2 separate regions of the Homo sapiens genome follow, and region 2 is linked to region 1. Evidence: fine-mapped expression QTL. A gene starts in region 1. The other region holds a variant in brackets. All regions are shown on one strand. Distances are from middle to middle. Region 1 holds the start of RETSAT (retinol saturase). Region 2 overlaps TGOLN2 (trans-golgi network protein 2).

Region 1 (5,371 bases):
TATGTTTTATAGAGCCAAAGTCTTGCTATGTTGCCCAGGCTGATCTTGAACTCCTGGCCTCAAGTGATCCACCCACCTCGGCCTCCCAAATTGCTGGGATTACAGGCATGAGCCAACACACCAGCCCACAAGCCGGGTTTCTTTGGAAGATGCAGGGTCTGCAAGCAATAGTGGAATAGCTGGGTCTTATGGTGGCTCTTCCAGGTCCTGATGAAAAGGCTTGGGCAGGACAGAACTGCTCAGAGGCTGCAGCTCTGAGAAATCACAGCACCAGCCCCTCCCATAGGGAAGGTCTGGGGGCAGTGCTGAGGGAGGCAGCACCTTCTCAGAAGACAAAACTGGATAGCAAGTGGTGCTATATGGGTACTTCCGACACAAGATCTGTTCTTTAACAATCACTGGCAAAGAACTGAGATCTGGGATGTTTCAAGATACAAGAGAACTTGGCAAACTGCTTATTTTTTTAATGTTTTTAGAGAGATCAATAGTAAAAAAAAATTTCACATGTAAGTATATAAGATAAATACATGAAACAAGTGTCACAATGCAATACTTAGTGGAACTATGTATAATGCACTCTGATATTTTCTATTCTACTGCATTCTAAAATACTAGTTGTGGCCAGGCGTGATGGCTCACGCCTGTAATCCCAACACTTTGGGAGGCCGAGGTGGGCGGATCGCTTGAGGCCAGGAGTTCGAGAGCCTTGACAACATGGTGAAACCCTGTCTCTACTAAAAATACAAAAATTAGCTGGGCATGCCCACTACTCGGGAGGCTGAGGCAGGATAATCACTTGAACCCAGGAGGCGGAAGTTGCGGTGAGCGGAGATCGCGCCACTGCACTCTAGCATGGACAATAGAGCGAGACTCTGTTTCAATAAATAAATAAATAATGCCAGTTGCAACTCACTAAATTGATTTCATAGCCCACTAATAGATCACAATCCGGTTTGAAAAGCAGTTAAGCTAGTCATCTCATTTTTAGACCAGCCCAGGTAGGTGCTAATGGTTATGCAGCAAATTAGTGACAGAGTCCAAGCTAAAACTCAGTTCTCAGAAGTCCAGATGATTAGTCCTTCCACTTAGAACAGTACTGTCTCCGATTGTGTAGCAAGATATGACACGGAGAATTCTAAAATTTACAAGTGAGAGGGACTCCGTAGATCAAACAGGTGATCCATTATTTTTTAAAGCAGCAGAACTCTTTAAACTCTAGAAGCAACCACAAAATATGTTTTAAAGATGAGAGTGGAGAGCAGGCTCTGAGCCTGAGGCGCCTTGTTGAACCTCTGCCAATGTTTCAGAACTAGGGTTCAATCCTTACGATTTGGGACCATGCAAAGCCTGTTAAATCACCGGACGGGCAAAACGCAATTTCCTACGCATTTCTGTGCTGCTCCCCCACACCCCTGAGCTCGCATGGGAGGGTAGGTGAAAAAGTTAAGGTCCTGGAACCAAGTGGAGGAATGAGTCACGGGGATTATCAGTTCCACGAGCCACGGGGATTACAAGTGGCAGGGCGGGTGCCAACACCTTGCAAACCAAGGACAATGACCACACCCTTGGGACTACTATTCCCGGGGCCTACTAGGGCAAAGGCTATCGACAGTGTTGCACACTAAAGCGGGGCTCCTCCACGTGCAAGGAAGCCCTCCTAGTACTTTACATATGGGGAAACTAAGGCCCACGTCTGGTAGCGGCTGCCTTGGCAAAATGAGAACCCAAATCTGTGAGAAAGCCTCGAGTGCAGCCCCGGACCCCAGGGTCCCTCCTGCTACCTTGTTTGAGAACCTTCTTCCTGGCCTCCTTGTCAGTTACCAGGGGCGCTGGGGGCCGTTTGACATCTTCGGAGAAAGGATTCGGGGAGCTGCCAGAGAATAGTCCCAAGTAAACTTTGCAGAGGACGGCCAGCAGCAGCACAGCCAGGAGCAGCACCAGCGGAAGCCACATCACGCCGGCGTCGGGTCGGGTAAATGGGACAGCTCCGACTGCGCTCAGCCTCTAGGACTGTGGCTCCGCCCGGGCTAGTTCGCTCTCCAGTCAGGAGGCGGAGGCAGCTTTGAGCACTGATTAACCAGCCAGCCAGCGAAGAGCCAACTCTCAGGTGATGATTGACCCTCCCGGCTCTCCGTACTTCTTTTGGGTTTCCATTGCCTACTGGGAAATGTAGTTCTCGGGGCCAGGGGAGCCGGCACGGAAGCGGCTGTGCGCATGAGCAGATGAGGCCTAGCCGAGGCGGCGGGACCCCCAAGTTTGGAAAGCTCTTTTAACGGTGAGAACGCGTTAACACTTGCCAAGGGGAGTGGTTGGTGCCTGTGCGGAGCTAGCAGCCGGCCTGAGGAGGGAGGGAGAATGTGATCCGGTGGAAATTATCACTATGGGGCGAGACAAGGCCGAGAGTTGTAAGACTGAAAGAGAATCCCGACTGGGAGACAGGAGTCCTGAGTTCTGGTCCTGGCTCTGCCCTGGACTCGCTGCCTTGAGGTGTTAAATTGCTTTCCTCGTCTTACGCCTCCAGGCTATGCGAAAGTTCTGTCCAAAGGCTGCTCACAGCCCCTGTCTGACTGGTTGTCATGATGAATTGAGCTCTCTGTTACCTGCGCATCACAACCGGTGAGCGTCTGTCTCTGTGCCCCTCAAAGTGGCCCATAGTTTTGTCCTGGGGGCCCGCCTGGGACGGAGTCCTCTATGGCGGGTCCCTAATGACACCCCATCCGTGGGGAACCTGGGGGACGGGGAGCCGCCCATGGACAAGCATGGTGAAAGGATCAGCTAAGGGCCCATCTAATTTAAATTCCTATGCAGAGAATCTAACCTCCAGCAAGCAGTTGAAGAATCATACCCCCTCCTTGCCTAAAGAGGGTGCATAATGAATACTTGATTGGAGAAGGATCCATTTTTACAGGAAGGCCGTTTCCTTAGGTCCAACTATCAGGAATTTGCCTTTGAGTACTTCCTTGTTTAATGGAATTGTTGCTCTTTTCTTCTCTGCTACAGATAGTAACTGTCCCTACTGAAGGCCCCAGGAGTGCTCCAGCCAGGTGTGGAAAGCTGGTCACGATTCTATGCTACTTGGTTCATTTTCTACACAGCAACAGAAGAGCCCTCCTGAGATTGCTATTACCATACCCGCCTGTCACCTTGCCAAGGCTGGCCAATGTGTGTTTTGTCATAGGCTGTCATGGAGGCCATGATGGAGGAAAAGGAAAGGGGAGGCAGATGTTGAGGCCCCAGAGGCCACAGTGAGAGCAGTTTAGTTCCTGGGGTGCCAGGACTAAGGGGGCATTGCCCTGTCCCCCGGATTACAGTGAGCCACATGTCAAGCCCAAGAGCCAGGAGGTATTCTTCCTCTCAGTGTTAATAATCAAAGCATCCTGACACCAGCAGCCAGTTTTTATGGCATCCTGGAGGGCTGACCTCATAGAGAGGCTACCCTCCTTCCTTAGTCACCCAAAGTTGTGAACTATGATTGTCAGTTGTGTGTGGGCCATCTGCCCACTTAGGATGCAATTTTTGATGTGACAGACATTCCGGATGTCCAATTCCCCTGTGATGAGGTATGAGCCTTGTCCAGCCCTTTTCCTGAGGGAAGCAATGTCAGATGAAAGACTTAGAATTGCCCAAACTGGCTAGCCAGCTGCCACATGCACAGTATTGCTGATAACTGAGAAAGGTTAGAACATCGTGTTGCATTTTGAATTTCTACCATTGTTGGAACCAGGTCTAGTATTATAAGCCCCTGACCCAGCCTGTGTGTGAGGCCTAAACAAAGCCTGAGCACTTCAGCTAAGACCACCCACCAAGGTGACACCTTTAGCCTCACGCCTTTGATAAGCTGGCCCAGGTCCCAGTAACTCCATTGTCAGAAACAGACCCCATCCCTTCTAGTGGTGCTGCTGCCTTTTGGACACAGAATCCAGCTCACAGTCCCCTGTGTGGTCCCCTTTTGGCCATCCTGTGGCTTGGGTAGTAAGAGGTAAGCATTTGGCTGAGGCAAGTTGTTCATTCAGAATAAATTCACAGCTGCTTAAATTTTGTCAACAGGCCGAGCGTGTTGGCTCATGCCTGTAATCCCAGCACTTTGGAAGGCCGAGGCAGGCGGATCACGAGGTCAGGAGTTCAAGACCAGCCTAACCAACATAGTGAAACCCCATCTCTACTAAAAATACAAAAATTAGCAGGGTGTGGTGGCGCACGCCTGTAATTCCAGCTACTCGGGAGACTGGGACAGGAGAATCGCTTGAACCCGGGAGGCGGAGGTTGCAGTGAGCCGAGATCGCACGGCTGCACTCCAGCCTGGGCAACAGGGCAAGACTCCAACTCAAAAAAAAAAAAAAATTGTCAACAGAGGCATAACTGAATGGTGAAACCAGTTTTCTTTTTCAATTTCTTTTTTTTCTTTTGTGCAGAGCTGAGGCTTCGAAGACCTCAGAGGACTTCTCTCAGCACTCACAGAAACCTCCTACACCCTCGGATGGCACAAAGGGACTGTTTTCTTACTCTTAGTCTGAGTGACTGCCAAGGAAGGCAAAGGTAGAGCAACTGGATCTCTGGCTCTCCACATAGCTTCTGATCTCAGACCTTACTAAAATGCTTTCTGGGCCCAAGGACAAAGCTCACATGAACAAATGATTTTGAGTCATGAATGAAAAATCTTGCTCTTTCCATAGTAAAGAAGAATTAAGAGATGGACAGGTAAGCATGCACTCTTATTTGGGAAAGGTGGTGTTGGTTTGAGATATATCATTAAGTATAGTAAGAATATATTAAGAGAATATTTGGAAAAATTTAGAAACCCTCATTATAGTTCTCTTTGTTCTGTAAGAAGGAGCTTCTATTCACCTCAGGGTCAATTGCTTTTCCTAATAGCTTGTTTTGTAAGTGAGTTATGAGATTTTTGTTTTCTTTTTGCTTGGGTAGTGGGGAGAATTTCATTGAGGAATCACCCAAGAAATCTGTATTTCATTGATTTGGATCATTACCTTACTAGCCTCTTCCCTGTGAAACGCTTGCTTTGGCCTGATCATCCTCAGGACTCAGTTCAATGTGATATGTCTTTGTATGAGCCGGGCAGCTAACCCTACATGCCTTACCTTTCACACTACTTTGCCCACCCAAAAATGGTCTTAAATGGAGGCTGTGGGATTCAGTGGCCAGACTGGGACAAAGCCTTTGCTTTGGGTCTCCAGAAAGATTTTCTTCACTGTAGTAATATGCGAACTGTTCCAAAGAGGGAAGTCTTTGGACACTGGAGGGGACTGAATTGGAGAAGGAAAGGAAGGATGAAATGAATCTCAGGTACACAGATGCCTGCAGGAAGTTGTTCAGCACAATGAATCACCAAATATTTTAGAGATAAAATTTCAAC
Region 2 (5,371 bases), 39 kb before region 1:
GGTGAAACCTCTCTACTAAAAATACAAAACTTACCCGGGCATGGTGGCGGCCGCCTGTAGTCCCAGCTACTCGGGAGGCTGAGGCCAGAGAATCGCTTGAAGCCAGGAGGTGGAGGTTGCAGTGAGCCGAGATTGTGCCATTGCAACCCAGCCTGAGAGACAAGATCAAAACTCTGTCTCAAAAAAAAAAAATACTGCACATAATTCTGTGTGATAGACTTCTTTGTATGACTGGCAGTGCAGTGGGTGGCTCCACCAATGCCAGCCTCTCCTTCCCCTGCCCCATGTGGCTGGGTCTGCAGCCTGCTCGGCCTCCCCTCTCTCAGACCGGGGGAGCTGAGGGGGTGAGGTAGAGACGGCCCAGGGGCAGAGCAGGGGGGTCGGGCTTGGTGCACAGGCAGACTCTGCCTTTGCTACTTCCTGCCTCTCTCTCTGTGACCCTGACCTCCCTTCTCCCCTGTCCCAGGACCTCTGGGAACTGACACTGTCCTGGCCAGGCCCCAGCATCTCACCCAGGCAGCCCAGCTAGAGCCATCTGTCCCTCTTGCCCTCCATCTGTGTTCCTGTGTCTCTTCCTCCTGAACACAACCTGAGGGCCTCACAAATATTTAGTTACATGAACGAAGCAGGCCGGGCACGGTGACTCACGCCTTCAATCCCAGCACTTTGGGAGGACGAGGCAGGCAGATCACTTGAGGTCAGGAGTTTGAAAATAGCCTGGCCAACGTGGTGAAACCCCATCTCTACCGAAAATACAAACATTAGTGGGTGTGGTGGTACATGCCTGTAATCCCAGCTACTTGGGAGGCTGAGGCAGGAGAATCGCTTGAGCACGGGAGGCGGTTGCAGTGAACAGAGATCGCGCAACTGCATGCCAGCCTGGGCGACGGAGCAAGACTCCATCTAAAAATAAATAAATTTTTTAAAAAATGGAAAAAGCAGAGGAGCCAGGGACCCGGCATCCCTCTGGCACGGGAATGGGAAGACAGCAGAAGAATCTGTGGGGGCAGTTTCCGGAACACCGGTCTCAGGTCATCTGCTGAGGAGTGGGGAAGCCCAGCTGTTTAGGTCTGGGGAACATCAGGTGCCCCACAGTGGCTGTGGCCTCTGCCATAGTGTAGTTCTTCCCTCCTCCCTCCAGCTGAGTCCTGAGATGCCAAGTACCAGTCAGGCTGCCTGCCTTTGCTCACATGCATTGGCATCCCTCTGGAGGCCTTGTGTTCTGATGTCACACTAAGAATCATGCATGTTCACTCACTCCGTGACTGCATAAAAGTTCATCCTGAAATCAGGCTGGTAATGAGCTGCTGTTCATGTGTGGTCTTCATGGGGGGAACCCAGTCATGTGCTCCACACTTCAAGACACGAAGGGGAAGATGGGAGGCAGTAAGCTTGACCTTCCTGCAGGTGCTGAGCCAGCTCATGGGGGCTGAGGACCAGGGCTGGGCTTTACCTGCCTCTGAAGGGGCTTGGAGCAGAGGCAGGGGAGGTGGAAGAATAGGAACCTGGGGCAGTGTCCTTCCCAGGCAGGAGGACACAGAAGAGCAGGCCCCTGCCAACATCAAGTTGAAACAGCTGTAAAAGTGGCCTGGGCACAAAGCTGGCAACTGAAGATAAGGCTCAGGACACAGCGAGCGGTCACCCTGAGGCTCTCCTGGGAGCAGGGAGTGGCTGTCTCCGGCCATGGTCCACAAAGGCACCAACCACTCCCCTTTGCAGGTGTGAAGCAGCAGCTGGGGACAGTTCAGCCCGGCTTAGGCATGACCTCTGTTTTCATCTGCCTGCGAGGCACCAAGGAGGACCTGCATCTGCCGTCCACCAACTACTATGTTTACTATGACACGGACATGGACCAGGCGTAAGGTGCACGTGTGTGTGTGGCCCGTGCCTCCCTGCTTGACTCAGAGAACGAGCAGAAGTTATGGAATGGGAGGAAGTAGGCAATTTCCAATTTGCACCTGGAAGTTTGTCACACCAAGGCTGTGGCTCAGCTTCACCCCTGTGGGGAGTCCCTAGGGACGAGCAGTCCTTGCAGTGGTTCTGGGGTTTTGAGGACAAAAGCCTGGAGATCGCACCACACT[CTT/C]GTCACACGCAGGATGGAGCGCTACATCTCCATGCCCAGGGAAGAGGCTGCGGAACACATCCCTCTTCTCTTCTTCGCTTTCCCATCAGCCAAGGATCCGACCTGGGAGGACCGATTCCCACGGGGGGCTGCACGTCCTGGGTGAGGGGGTGGAGGGAGGGGCCGGGCAGTAGTAATATCAGCTCTGATCCCCAGGCCGGTCCACCATGATCATGCTCATACCCAGCACCTACGAGTGGTTTGAGGAGTGGCAGGTGGAACTGAAGGGAAAGTAGGGCAGTGACTATGAGACCTTCAAAAACTTCTTTGTGGAAGCCTCTATGTCAGTGGTCCTGAAACTGTTCCCACAGCTGGAGGGGAAGGTAGGGGGTAAAGTATTTGGGGTGGTGACGGACCTCATGGTGCTATTTCTGCCCTTTCCTTGAGACAGGGGAATTGGGCCCCAAGACATGAGCCCCAGGGAAGGACAGGGCACCCAACCCCGGAGTCAGTGAATGGGAAAGAGTGGAAGAGGGAGGGGAGCCAGGATCTCACATGCCTGCCCCACCCTTTCTGCCCTCAGGTGGAGAGTGTGACTGCAGGATCCCCACTCACCAACCAGTTCTGGCTGCTCCCCGAGGTGTCTGCTACAGGGCTGACCATGACCTGGGCCGCCTGCACCCTCGTGTGATGGCCTTGAAGGCCCAGAGCCCCATCACCAACCTCTGACAGGTATACTCACTGCCCCATGTTGTCAGGACCTGAGACCCTGGGCCCCTGTCGCCCAACGTCCTCTGTTCCTGCCCTCAGGCCCTGCTGTCCCCTGCAGCCTCCCATCCCCTGAGCAGGGCTGCCTGGGCAGGCTGTGGCCCCTGTCTGATTGGAGCCAGCTCTGGGTGGCCCTCATGTGGAGGGAAGAGCACCAAGGCCCCACCCTCCCCTGGGCCTGCCTGGGTGCACACTCAGGGGCCTCTGCTCTTGCCTCCTAGGCCAGGGTATCTTCACCTGTGGACTGGTAGGGGCCCTGCAAGGTGCCCTGCTGTGCAGCAGCGCCATCCTGAAGTGGAACTTGTACTCAGACCTTAAGGATCTTGTCTCTAGGATCTGGGCACAGAAGAATTAGTTCCATCAGGGAGGAGTCAGAGGAATTTGCCCAATAGCTGGGGCATTAGTTCCTTGCACATATAAACCACTCTTATTTGGTTCTGATGCCTGAAGAGAGGCCTAGTTTAAATCACAATTCCGAATCTGGGGCAATGGAATCACTGTTTCCAGCTGGGGCAGGTGAGATCTTTCCACCTTCTATAATATGCCATCCCTACTAATAGGATATTGACTTGGATAGCTTGATGTCTCATGACGAGCGGCGCTCTGCATCCCTCACCCATGCCTCCTAACTCAGTGATCAAAGCGAATATTCCATCTGTGGACAGAACCCCTGGCAGTGTTGTCAGCTCAAGCTGGTGGGTTCAGTTCTGTCCTGAGGCTTCTGCTCTCATTCACTTAGTGCTACGCTGCACAGTTCTACACTGTCAAGGGAAAAGGGAGACTAATGAGGCTTAACTCAAAACCTGGGCATGGTTTTGGTTGCCATTCCATAGGTTTGGAGAGCTCTAGATCTCTTTTGTGCTGGGTTCAGTGGCTCTTCAGGGGACAGGAAATGCCTGTGTCTGGCCAGTGTGGTTCTGGAGCTTTGGGGTAACAGCAGGATCCATCAGTTAGTAGGGTGCATGTCAGACGATCATACCCAATTCATATGGAAGTCCCGGGTCTGTCTTCCTTATCATCGGGGTGGCATCTGGTTCTCGATGTGCCAGCATCAAGGCACCTTCAGGGAGCTCGGTACCCGAGCCTCAATCAAGCCTTATCCTCCAAATATGCAGGGAAAGGTGACACAGGGCAGGGAAGGGTGACGTCAGGAGTCAGGGCATCGACTGGTAAGATTACTTCATTGTGTTGAGGCAGGCTGCAGGGCATTCCACACAATGGCACAGCAGAGGACAGCACAGGGAGGCAACAGAGTGTTCCCAGCAATGGCCCAGCTACTGAAAGCAGGCAGCCAGGCTGGGAGGAGTCAGGTGGCAAGAGAGTTGGTCAGGAGCAGAACATGGAAAGCCAGAGAAAGTGTGCAAAGCCCAGAAATGGCATCTGCAATTTACTGGTACATGTGTGTGTTGGATGGAAGGTGAAGGAAGGCTCAAAAGGCATAAAAAGGACCTTTCACTTATGTTAAACTGACATGCCAAAGGTCTTATTGGAGTTCATCTTAATATAATATTAATAAATTTATTGGCCGAGCGTGGTGGCTTACACCTGTAATCCCAGCACTTTGGGAGGCCAAAGTGGGCGGATCACGAAGAAGAGATTGAGACCATCCTGGCCAACATGGTGAAACCCCGTCTCCACTAAAAATGCAAAAATTAGCTGGGCGTGGTGGCACGCACCTGTAGTCCCAGCTACTCGGGAGGCTGAGGCAGGAGAATCGCTTGAACCTGGGAGGCGGAGGTTGCAGTGAGCCAAGATCATACCACTGCACTCCAGCCTGGTGACAGAGCAAGACTCTGTCTCAAAAATAAAATAAAATAAATAAATAAATAAATGTATTAAATCCATTGCTTTAACATTTTGAAATTTATTTTGGTTTCTGTTCAACAAAACCAAACCACATTGGGATGGCATTTACAGAAGCTCAGAAAAACATTATGCACTGAAAAATACTTCTCATTAGACCACAACAAGCTTTAAAAAAATAAAATTAAGTAATTATAGTTAAGTTACAAAAAGCTGAAAGTATAAAACATTGTGGAAACAGTGACCATCTATTAACTGGGAAAACACAAAAGAAGAGAAACAATTTCAACCATTAATCATTTATCAAACATGAAGTCTGGTGCATTAAAGGAATATCTATCAGAGGGTGAGGGGCTGGCTTACTGGCAGTTTGACATACTATACAGCTCAGACCCAAACCCTTCACAGAGAGACTCTAAGTGTACATCTGACTTGCAGAACTAGACGAGTTGAGTCACTGTTAGCTCTGGATATACCGTTAAATTAAACCTCAAAATCTCTCCCCAGGACTCTTGCTCAAGCAAGTCACGCCAAATCCAACCTTCCTAACAGGGGTTTTCAGAAAATGGCCTGCAGAAGCACAGGATCTGGTGCCTCACAGTTTCCTCCATGCTGCAATGCTCTAGTTCTCATCACGCCCATAGCATCTGGCATCAGGTTACCCTGTACAGTCAACGGCCATAGAAGTCGCCAGCAGGGAAATTCCAGAGGTTTAGAATTCTATCAGCACATGTGTCA

What was found. PIP is the estimated chance that this variant, and not a neighbour inherited with it, causes the effect. A credible set is the group of variants that fine-mapping cannot tell apart.
Region 2: its variant is the best candidate, but not a certain one, in a credible set for the expression of RETSAT in whole blood (TOPMed, PIP 0.74).

What each region holds. Positions count from the first base shown.
Region 1 is chr2:85,352,555-85,357,925 of GRCh38, forward strand. It overlaps RETSAT (retinol saturase), which reads right to left and starts at 1,974. Exons shown (of 11, transcript NM_017750.4): 1 at 1,782-1,974. The coding sequence starts at 1,953. ELMOD3 (ELMO domain containing 3) reads left to right here and starts at 2,215. Exons shown (of 14, transcript NM_001135022.2): 1 at 2,215-2,275; 2 at 2,522-2,616; 3 at 3,001-3,044; 4 at 4,413-4,698. The coding sequence starts at 4,645. RefSeq lists enhancers at 1,976-2,477, 2,042-2,441, 2,478-2,977, 2,612-2,671.
Region 2 is chr2:85,313,353-85,318,723 of GRCh38, forward strand. TGOLN2 (trans-golgi network protein 2) reads right to left here. Exons shown (of 4, transcript NM_006464.4): 4 at 4,675-5,371. Among named protein-coding and RNA genes, the nearest start is that of TGOLN2, 12 kb to the right of the region's middle. RefSeq lists an enhancer at 33-533. The variant CTT/C (reference allele first, on the strand shown) is at 2,082.